Linked DNA regions of Homo sapiens: region 2 is linked to region 1. The links come from fine-mapping of genetic effects on gene expression. Tissue or cell type: whole blood. Region 1 holds a variant in brackets; the other region holds the start of a gene. All regions are shown on one strand. Distances are between the middles of the regions. Region 1 overlaps PTDSS1 (phosphatidylserine synthase 1). Region 2 holds the start of PTDSS1 (phosphatidylserine synthase 1).

Region 1 (5,331 bases):
TGGTAAACATTAGGGTGGCCCAGGAACTCTGCAGCAGTCACTGAGCACATTCCAAAGAGCGGATGTTAACCCCCCAACCCCGTATTTTAAAGGGCTAGCTTCAGTCTGGCTGCCAATGGTTACATTTTTTCTTCCCCACCTTGTGTTTAGCCTCCCCTTCTGTGTCCAACCTCCTCCACTTCTCAATGACCCCAAGGGCCTCTGTAAGTGCAGGATTCTACCCAAAACCCTCCCAATTCCAAAGGGTGGGCCTTGGCATAAAGAGGCATCATTCCAGGGTGCTACACGGTGGCTTCTGAGGGAAGACCAAGAAGGCTGAACCTGTTGTATTTGGTAATGAATTTTGTTTTCTCCTGGGTTGGGTGAGCACCTTAGGAGCTTACTGTGGAAGCAGAGTCCTAGCGAAAATAAGACTGGCATTGATAGGATGTCTTGTATCATCAAAATGCTTAACAGGTCCATGAAACATCCTAGCATTGCTGTGAGAGTGGTTCCAAGGTTTCTATGAATGGTGGAAACAGACACAAACGAAATGTGGGAAGAAGCTTTGGGAAGACCAAGAATGAAAAAAAGGGAAAAGAACCTAACACTCAATGCAATGCTACTTAAGGAGAAAAATACATAAACCGTTCTTCAAGCTTTAGGTCCAAAACAATGTTCTCTCTTAAGAGGGTGGTTTGCAAACAGGGACCATGAGATAATTTACAATCAAATCATTTCAGATATTGAATGATGATTCTGAAACACGCATTCTATTTCCATCAATGTGAGGTTTATTTCCATAGAAACGGTGAAAAAAGTAGGCCAAACCCAGCAGTATGGCTTCTAAAAGGAATAGCAGCTGTGGTTCTGGCCAGCCATGGAAAGCACTGGTTTTGTAACTACTATAGTAAAGAGCTCTGACTGAAGGGAAATAGAAAGTTTCAACTCAAAGAAAGGGCATGGAAAGTATCTGAGAACTTTCCTGGCTGTTTCTTACAAAGCCATGGAGAAAAAATCATCTCCTGTGCACCCTGCTCTTCACAATGCCACAGTAAAGTCGAATTCACCACCTGCGAAACAGCTGCCTCCTGTAGGCTGGCCTCAGAGGAAGCACACATGCTCCATCAGTTGCAACAAGGCGAAAGTCAGAAGAGTGTGAAAGTGTCAGGCCCAGTGCTCCCGGAAAATGAACCCGGAAACACTCAGTGAGGCACCACCGGTGTGAGAAAGAAGAGACAGGTGTCTTCTCCAATGGGCACAAGTATGTCATGCTTAGAAAAGCAGAACACAGGATGAAACAAAACATATTTATTTGCAAAGAAAGATCATGTTTAAATTGTACCTGTGTTTAAAAATGGCCTCTTTGATGGGTTATAAAAGTGCAGGCAGGTTTTATGAAACACGCACTTTGCCTCTCTTCTATCCTTTTGTGGGAAGCAGGCAGATGCTGGCTGGAGGACATTTGAGAGCTCGGAGCTGAGGCTCATCACAGCCAAATCCCTCACTCACCAAGTGAGCGGAGCTGCCACTGACGCTTCTCCACTCCCGCAGAATCTACTATTGAGCACTGGGCCCCCTGAGGACAGGATGTGACCCTGGCTGGCATGATTCATTCAACCCGTTCATCTTGGAATTCTTTTGCAGAAAAAAAAAAAGTGACACTTCTATGGCTAAAGATTTCCTTAAAGAAGAAGAAACATCAGAACGAACCTTTGTGCTGTGTGAAATGAGGGAACAAAAGATTACTTTCAGTGAGTTGATATCTGTAAGCTAATCAACTGGGTACTGGCCTCTTGTTAGAGGAAAAAAAAGTCCAACTTGGAAACCATTACCACAGGAAAAAACAATGACTATGTTGTTCATTCCTGTTGGTCACTTGGGTAGTCTAAGAAGTAGGACATATATGTCTGTAAGCCCTTTAAAATACACATCTTTTCTTTTTTCTTCTCACTATGTAAAACACATATATATTATCCTAAAGTCACTTGAAAAACACAGACTGCTTACAATCAATAGAAGATACCAGTAAGATGCAAGAAAATGAGCATTTTACAGACAGACCTTTGATAGGCTTTAAAGTGAATCGTTTTTATTTAAAACAGGGATCCATCAGAGGTGGTGAACTATCAAGGTCAAGGTTCTAGAGCATGGCACAGATGAAAGGTAATACTCACCAGCACCTCACATGGGACTCAGTGACAATGTCAGCAACACACCATGGAAGGAGAACAAACCCGATGTAAAAGGCACCTAGCTGGGGAGAAGCTGTGGTGTTCACTGCCTCTCTAGCAGGTTTGCTTTTGTGCACTGTGGCTAAGTCTGGATGAATAATATTGGGAAGGGAATAATCGGAAGCGAGGCTCCTATGCAGGCAGCTACCCTCTCCTGATTGGTGTATACTCGCCATGTGGTAGGAGGTCTTACAGGAGACTGAGGTTACCAAACAGGAATACAACACCTCTCTCCCTTTTCTGCTCTAGAAGGAAGGGGAACCCTTCCCCCAGTATCAATTTCAGCAGCGGCTTCTAAAGGCTGTTAAAAAGCATCCTAACTTAAAAACAAATAACAACAGTAACCAAATAAAAGACAGAAAAGTGGCCTGAACTTAAATCAATCAATGGAAAGGTAGATTCATAAAAATAAAATAAAAACTGGTGACCAGTCCATTAACCATGGGGTTAATGCCTCGTCTGAAGGAAGATGTTTACGCTGCATCCACGATCCAGCAGGCGCGGAGCTGCTCTTGGCAACTGTGAATGAATAGCTACCGTTTCCCTTCAACACACCGCGCTGCCACCGGTGACCGCATGTCAAGTGCTGAAGTTAGAAGAGACCCCACGTTGGCAAAGGCCCCCCAGGCGATGATCTGCCTGACGCGGCCAGGTCTGTGGGAAACAAGACTTACGATCTCAAATAATGACCCCCAAGTGCCCTCGCCTCTTCCTGCTTGCCCTGTGCGCCTC[G/A]ACCTCCTCACGGGGAGTTCCAAATGAGTTCCATTTCCCTCTCAGTTCTAGGCACTCTGGAACATCTTTGATTAACCAGGGTTTTTCATTTCTTTCCAACGCCATTGGTGACTTTTGACTTGGAATGCCGATTCCTTCTCCTGGAAGAATGGCTTTCGTTGTTGCCTGCATGCTTGGGTGGGCTGTCTTCAGAACCTGGCCAAAGGAATCAGAGCACACCGTCACCCTGGGCTCTGGAGATTGGTGACTGTCCCTTTCCAGACCGCCCTAGGCTTGCCGGGGAACAGGTTCTTCCCTGATACGTGCACTCCCCCTAGTGGCCTCATTCATAAATGAAGGCGAGGCTCTCAAACACAGAACTAGTACTGAAGGAGCACACGCGGTGGCGCGGGGTTCAACGCAATAGCGCCCCAAAGTCTGGGTGGTTCCTGAAGCGTGTGTACATCTGTCCTGTGTATGATGGACATGGTCATGATGGTGAGGACCAGAAGTGAGAGCACAAGTGAAACGGAAGCCCAAACGAGGGGCAATTAAAACACACACCACGCGGTGCCCATCCTGCCCTGCAACCAAGGGTTTCCATCCCTTCACCTGCTCCACACCACCTTCTAAACCCGACATCAGGAAAGACTCTTGACACTATAAAATCAGAGCTATTTCACACCCTCTACATTTGATCTGGAGAACATCTTTACAATTCAGGCCCCTGCTGCCCACGATGGAGGGCACTGGGCAGCCTCTGCCCTCCAGCTGAGCCTTTGTTCAGCCCCTGCCTGGCCTAGCGGCCAAGCCAAAGGGTTCTCTGCCCCAGGGCTCTGATCCAGCCCCATAGGAAATCTCCACCTGAGGCTGCCAACAAAAAAAAAGTTACCAGAGTTACAGTCTCCACTGTAAGGAGCATTTGACTTAGACTAAGAGATTCTTTCCCCACTCAGAAGACTTCTGTTTTTGTTATTTTTCTTTTTTTATTATTCCATCAAGTAAATACATCTCTACTACTGCTTAATTCTCTTCAGTGGAGAACCTGTAAGTGCCAAGGTTGTTTGTAAGGGCATGGTTCTAAATAAGATAGCTGGGGAGCCCCTCTGTCCATCTCTATCAGATTTCACAACGGGCCGCTCACTGATCAATTCCGTGGTTCAGGAGAAACTTTCCCCAAAAGGGCGGCCAGCAGCTCAGCAGAGTGTATGTTAGTGTCTCCCCTGGGAGATCTTTAATGAGCCTGATGCCAAAAGAACTTAGGAGAATGACTGCAACAGGGCGCTTTCTTCTCCATTGGCCCACCGTTTCTCTGAGCAATTTTGTGAGCTAAAATTCAGTCTTTAGTATTTCTAATTTTCTTTCTTCAGCCAAGCTTCCCAAGTAGCTTATAAGGATTGACGAGGAATTACTGTCCAATGAAATCACCTCAATGTCATTATTCTACAAGTCTAATTCTTTGAAATAACCAGGTGGCCCCAAATATTCCCAAAGTGATCCTTAGAGGCCAGTGGAGGTTCCCTAACTACACGACCAAAATCTCTTACACTGCCCTGCCTCTTGAATAAATGCCATTAAAATGATCCCCCTCTTTTGAAAGGCTTTTCCTCCTGATACACAGTACCTTTTTTTTTTTTTTTTTTTTTTTTTTTTTTAAGAGGCAGGGACTTGTTCTGTCTTCCACATGGGAGTGATCCTGGGCTCAAGTGACCCTCCTATCTCTGACTCCTGACTAGCTGTAACTACAGGCATGTGCCACCACATCTGGCTAATTTTTTAAGATTTTTGTAGAGACAGGGTCTTGCTCTGTTGCCCATGCTGGTCTCAAATACCTGGCCTCAAATGATCCTGCCATGGCATCCCAAAGCGCTGGGGTTACAGGCGTGAGCCACTGTGCCTGGCCGGATATACAGTTCTTCCTGTTCACTCATGATGGAAGCCAAGAGGAAGAACGTTCCCATCAGGGTGCTTGAAATGGTGTGGGGCCCTCACGAAGGGCAGAGCTACATGGAGCCTCTTCTTACAAACCAAGTCTTTCACTCAGATCCTGTGAGCATTTTGCATGTTTCTTTTTCTTTTCTTTTCTTTTTTTTTTTTTGAGACAGAGTCTTACTCTGCTGCCGAGACTGGAGTGCCGTGGTTTTGAGACAGAGTCTTACTCTGCTGCCCAGGCTGGAGTGCAGTGGTACGATCTTGGCTCATGGCAACCTCCGCCTTCCAGGTTCATGCGATTCTCCTGGCTCAGCGTCCTGAGTAGCTGGGACTACAGGCGCCCGCCACCACACCTGGCTAATTTCTGTATTTTTTGTAGAGACGGGGGTGTCACCATGTTGGCCAGGCTGGTCTCGAACTCCTGATCTCAAGTGATCTGCCCACCTCAGCCTCCCAAAGTGTTAGGATTACAGGC
Region 2 (5,379 bases), 73 kb after region 1:
ATATGTCTGGTCAGGTACTGTGGAAAGGTCTGGTCTTCACCTGCTGCACAGCTTTAGCAGATTTTATAGTAATAGTGGCAAGATCCCTCAATCATTAAAGAGTAAGCAATTGTTACTTAAGCTTTATACCTTTAGGTAGATTCTTTCAAATGGATAAACACTTACATAACAAGAACCAAGAGTCAAATGAATCCCAGAGGTAAGGAACAAGTGTGATGTGGGAGGATATTAGTTTTATGAGGATTTGAAAAACTGCAGTTATTCCTAAGGGAGGCACCACCGGCACTTGTGTGTGTGTATGCAAACGACTGTGTAGAAGACAATTCCCTTTATGTTGTACAGCGCTGTCACATATGTCACAATACATTTAGTATCCGTTAACTGCTCCCCCTCCCAAATACTAGAAGTTCTCTCAATCCTTGTGACTACCCAATATATATATCCCTACACATGTTCTGCTGACCCTGACAGAGAACCTTGATTGTTGGATAAAAATACTGGGAGAGAAGTAACTGACATGAATTGTACATTGTGCTCCAGGGACTCTGCTAAATGCATTCACACACATTCATTTAATTTTCATAACCCTATATAAGTAGATATTTCATCCCCATTTTACGAGTGTGGCCCCTGAGGCTCAGAGCAAGGTTATGCAACTTAATTAAGGACACACAGCCAGTTTTGAAACCAAAAGTGTGGCTCAAAAACTACTCTACTCTAAGTTGGCCTTTTAAGCCATAATGGTGAGAGAGGTGTGACTTCCCTTTCTTTAAAGAGGTTCATTCAGAAAGTATAAATCATTCTAAGTAGGAACCACGGTGTGTACCTCCTTATGAACCAAGGATGAATTAGTTCTCTAGGTTAGGAATGAGGAGCCACAGGCGCAGTGCCAGAGTTAACATGAGGTGTGTTCAAGATTTGGGCTGGGCAGCTCCTATGAACCGGTATATATTAGAATGTGTGTGTATGTTTTCCAGGGAATAAGAGAGTTGTGTTATGCTGTGTGAGGTTTATGTGTTTCATTTAACACACAGCAGTTACTATACCCCAGGCACCATTAAAATTGCTGGACAAGATCACATTTCAGCACGTATGTTAGGTAATGAGTGAGCAGGGTATGCACCGCGTGATGTGTGGCGGGCTGGTGTCTGTGCAGCCATGTACACAGATGATGGGTATTGGGCTGTGCTGGAAAGGAAAGGTCCGCTGTGAGGTGTGTGTTTAGAGTGGCAGTTTGTGCCGTGGTACAGATGGTAGTGTTTGAGGCTGGGGGAAGTGTTATGCTGGATGACTTGTGTGCAATGCATACGGGAAGTGCTGCACAGGAAAGACCGTGTATGCAGCACACATGTGCATTTTTTGTGCGTTACGGATAGTGCCGAATACCGGAGTTCCACAGGAAGGGATCTAGGTTGTGTCCTGGGCCTGTGTATGGTGCCTGCAGGCGCTGTGGATTGGGGTGCTTTGTATGTGTAGCGGTGTGTGCTGAAAGTGGTGCATACGACATGATTCATGCGGTGTGCTGGGTAGGGACGAAGGCTGGAGCAGTGCAGAGGAGGGGCCCGCGTCGTGATGTTGTGTGGAGCGATGCTGAGTGCGGTGGGTGAGGGGGCGATCGTGCTAGGTGACTCGCGTGCGTTCCCCGTGTAACCGGAGGCGCTGTATGGAGAAGGGGCACTGAGGGGTAGGGGAGCAGGCTAGCGTACTGTGAGACACCGGGCGGGCGGAGGGGCCGCGTGGGCGGCGGGCTGCCAGTGCGTGTGCGTGGAGCAGCCAGCCCACTTCCTCACCCAGAGCCATGCCGGGCCCCCCTCCCCGCCACCCTCCCTCCCGCCTCTTCCCTAGCCCTTGGACGCGCCCCCCGCTCGGCTGGGCCGCCCCACCTGGTAAAGGCGAAGTACATGAGGCTGACGATGGTGAAGCTGAGCAGGGTGATGGTATGCGGCCGGTAGAAGAAGTCAATGGTGATGTCCTCCACTTGCTGCTCGTTGATCATCCGGAAATGCATTTTGTAGTTCACATCATCCTTGCTTAGGGTCCGGCTCCCCACGCAGGACGCCATGGCCCGCCTCCCCGTCCTGCCGCGGTGGCGGCGGCCCCAGCCCGAGAAGGCCGGGACCCCGGGGGTGACTAGCCACAGTAGGCTAATAGCCGGACGGCAAAGCCGGGTCTGGCGCCCAGCAAAGGCTGGGAGCAGAGGGAAGGACAGGCGCGAGAGGGCGGGGTCGCGGCGCCGCCACCGCGGCCTGGGGCAGGGGACGCCGCCGGCCGTCCCCACGCTGTCATCCTAGCTGAGGCATCTCTACCACTCGAGGAATTTTCAGACTCCAAGTCCACAGGACTTCAGAGGAATAGCGAGCCGGAGAAGGGTAGCCGGGGCCCCTGGCTGGCTCTTTTCAGAGCACGTAGCCCGCTGTCTCCCCGCGTAACCCGGCACATGGTCTCGCCCACTCCGGGCGCGGCCCACGTGGGCCCGGGAGCGCGGCTGCGCTGTGTAGGGCGGGCTGAGGAGCCGGCGTGCGGCGCGGCGGGACGGGACGTGCGGCCCAGCGAGTTGGTCGGTCCCGGGGTCACCCGCTACGGGAAGCAGGCCTCGCCACAGGTAAAGCAGGAGCTGCCCCAGCACGAGGATCGCGCTCCTGGCGAGGGTTCAGGTTCCGGCGCACCCGCGTCCAGACCGCGCCCCAGGGCCTCAAGGGCCTTTAGGTTTTCGCGGCCCAGTAGAGGGTGATTGGTTTTGTTTTGTGTTTTTCCCTGGCTGATGTAGTGAAAACTCAACCATGCTGGCTAATTAGCGCAGTGTGAGAAGCCTCAGGAGGGGGCTCTGCCTTCCTGCGCAAGTTTGGGGAACTGAAGTGGGCTAAAATGGCCTGGGAAGTATTGAGAGACCCTTTATTAGGAAGCTGCCCCCATAACCTCCCTTTCTCTCCTGATTTCATTTATAGCATTTCGTAGGTAGAAATCTTGAACTCTATTTCAGTGCCTTTTTCTAGCGAAGCACTAGGCACTCATTGAGAACAGTATATATGAATTGTTAAGAGACTTCAGTTTCTTTAAGGGTTTTCTGTAATTTTCCTGATGAAAGGACCTTGTTAGAAGACTTCAGGTTACCACCTTACAGGGCTTTTATACACATCTGCACATCCCCTACCCGCTTTTGCATACTGTGTAAGCAAGTGAGTTAACTGTACTTGCCATTGATTTATTTCCATTCCGCAAACATTAGAGCAGTACAAGGCTCTGGGAAAGTGGAGAATAGTCCCCGGAAGGATGGATCCAGGGATGAGACCCAGCTCTGCTCTCGTGCATGAACAGTTAATCAATTGTTAAGATGTGTAGGCAGCAATGAAAGGATGTGGAGAAGATAGTGCACTTGTAAATAAAAATGCAAGGATAAACATTAGTTGTATGCACAAAGATCTTTTAATGACGGGGTGAAATTTGAAAGTGAGTCTTCCTGATGTTTAAGTGGTATTGAGTGTGGAAAGGCTTCAGGATGAATTTGGGATTTCAGGAGTTTGAAGTAGGATGAAGTGCTTAGACGTCAAAAAATGTTAGAGCTGATAGGGGCCTTAAGAATCATCTTATTGTACCCCTAGCCTTTTAAAAAAGCATTATTTGAAGAATAGTTATTGACCCCACCCCCACCCCCCACATCATGGGCTAGACTGCTGCTTTTGTTAGACTGCTGCCAGAAACAGCCTTGTCAAGGTAGCACAACCGAGGTCTTCTGACTTTCAATTTAGTGCCCTTATGACTACCGTGCAGAGAATGAATGTTGTAGGTTTGAGGGAAAACTTGGCACATTTGGAGTCCCATTTCCCACCAAAATCTAACAGAAACCACCTATCCCAGCAGGGTATTGTGAATACTTACTTCTTTTCTAAAATCATCGCAGAATGGGCCGAGCGCAGTGGCTCACGCCTGTAATCCCAGCACTTTGGGAAGCTGGGTGGATCACCTGAGGTAAGGAGTTCGAGGCCAGCCTGGCCAAGATGGTGAAACCCCGTCTCTACTAAAAACACAAAAAATTAGCCGGGCATAGTAGCGGGCGTGGGTAATCCCAGCTACTCGGGAGGCTGAGGCAGGAGAATCACTTGAACCTGGGAGGCAGAGGTTGCAGTGAGCCAAGATGGTGCCGTTGTACTCCAGCCTGGGCAACAAGGGCGAAACTCCGTCTCAAAAAAAATAATAATAATAATAATAATAAATAATTGCAGAATGAAAGGAAACTTTCACTTTTGTAAAATCTCTTTCAGCAAACTTCCCAAAACTACAGATCTCCAAGAAAAGATTAGACCCTCAAGTATTTGGTCTAATTTAGAGCATAAAACAAGCTGAATTCCAGTATGCAGAAAAACAAAGTATAAAGTTGTAGGCAGCAATTAATTCAGCAGAATTTTTGTATTTGGTTGTGTAACCAATAATAATGGCTAACATTTATTGAGCATTTCTTATATCCTGACTCCATCCTGTGTTTTATATGGATAATGTTATTTAACGTAAGATTATATGCATCAAATTTACCTTTCTAATTAGCTGGCTAAATATAAAATCCCTTCATATTCCTGGAGTTTAACATAGCACTAGCCTTTCCTGATAAAAATATTTTTGAAAACTACTTTTTCAGTCAAAATATACAGGTATTAATTGCTGGTTGCTTATTTATTTCTGTCACTTGGTTTTGTTACTAGTTTTGACCTTTTCTTTTTGAAGGCTTTTTTCTCCTTTCCTACAGTGAAACAAAACTTGACAAAACTGGTTTTGTTCAATTCCCTTTGGAAGAACAGCTTTATCTGTGAAGTAATCAACAGTGTTCAGCCCTGAGAATGAAGCAAGAAACTGCTTTCACTGTTCTGTATATCAATGATAATATTTTGATGATTTGTTTAGGACACAGTAGATTTCTGTTTTTTCATTTTGGGACAAATTTATATACATAAAATGCATTTGAATAATTCAGTGTTACTTTGATCAGCAATGTGCTGCGGAAACACCCTTCACACCAAATTTCAAGAACACTTATTTGCATCAGCTTATTCTCTTTAAATGATTAAATTAACAGATTAGTGAGGTCTGCTGTCACTTGAACATTTGCAGATTTTTGTTTTAAGCATTTTTCTTACACCAGTGTCATTGCATTTTGTTTTTAAATTGTAAAGTATATCTTTATTTTTCCACTCAGAAGTTCCTGTCTGTTGGTTTGTAACTGAGATTGCCTTGTTGTTGGCTTTTCCTGTACATAAGAAACATCTCACTATTTTAGACTAAATATATATTTAAACACCTTTCAATTAGAAAAAAATAATTTCCAGTTTATCTTTTTGTTGTTTGAATACCGTTTTAAACATTTAAGTAAATTAAATTTCTCTTCTTTTG

Evidence for each region.
Region 2: PTDSS1 starts here. The variant in region 1 is fine-mapped to the expression of PTDSS1 in whole blood (TOPMed, PIP above 0.99).

What each region holds. Positions count from the first base shown.
Region 1 is chr8:96,331,266-96,336,596 of GRCh38, reverse strand. It overlaps PTDSS1 (phosphatidylserine synthase 1), which reads right to left. Exons shown (of 13, transcript NM_014754.3): 13 at 1-3,140. The coding sequence ends at 3,031. Among named protein-coding and RNA genes, the nearest start is that of PTDSS1, 72 kb to the right of the region's middle. The variant G/A (reference allele first, on the strand shown) is at 2,946.
Region 2 is chr8:96,258,724-96,264,102 of GRCh38, reverse strand. PTDSS1 (phosphatidylserine synthase 1) reads right to left here and starts at 2,201. Exons shown (of 13, transcript NM_014754.3): 1 at 1,884-2,201. The coding sequence starts at 2,062. MTERF3 (mitochondrial transcription termination factor 3) reads left to right here and starts at 2,493. Exons shown (of 8, transcript NM_015942.5): 1 at 2,493-2,602. RefSeq lists enhancers at 1,276-1,515, 1,661-2,353, 2,836-2,895, 3,047-3,740 and silencers at 1,666-1,845, 1,896-2,265, 2,446-2,595, 2,348-2,672.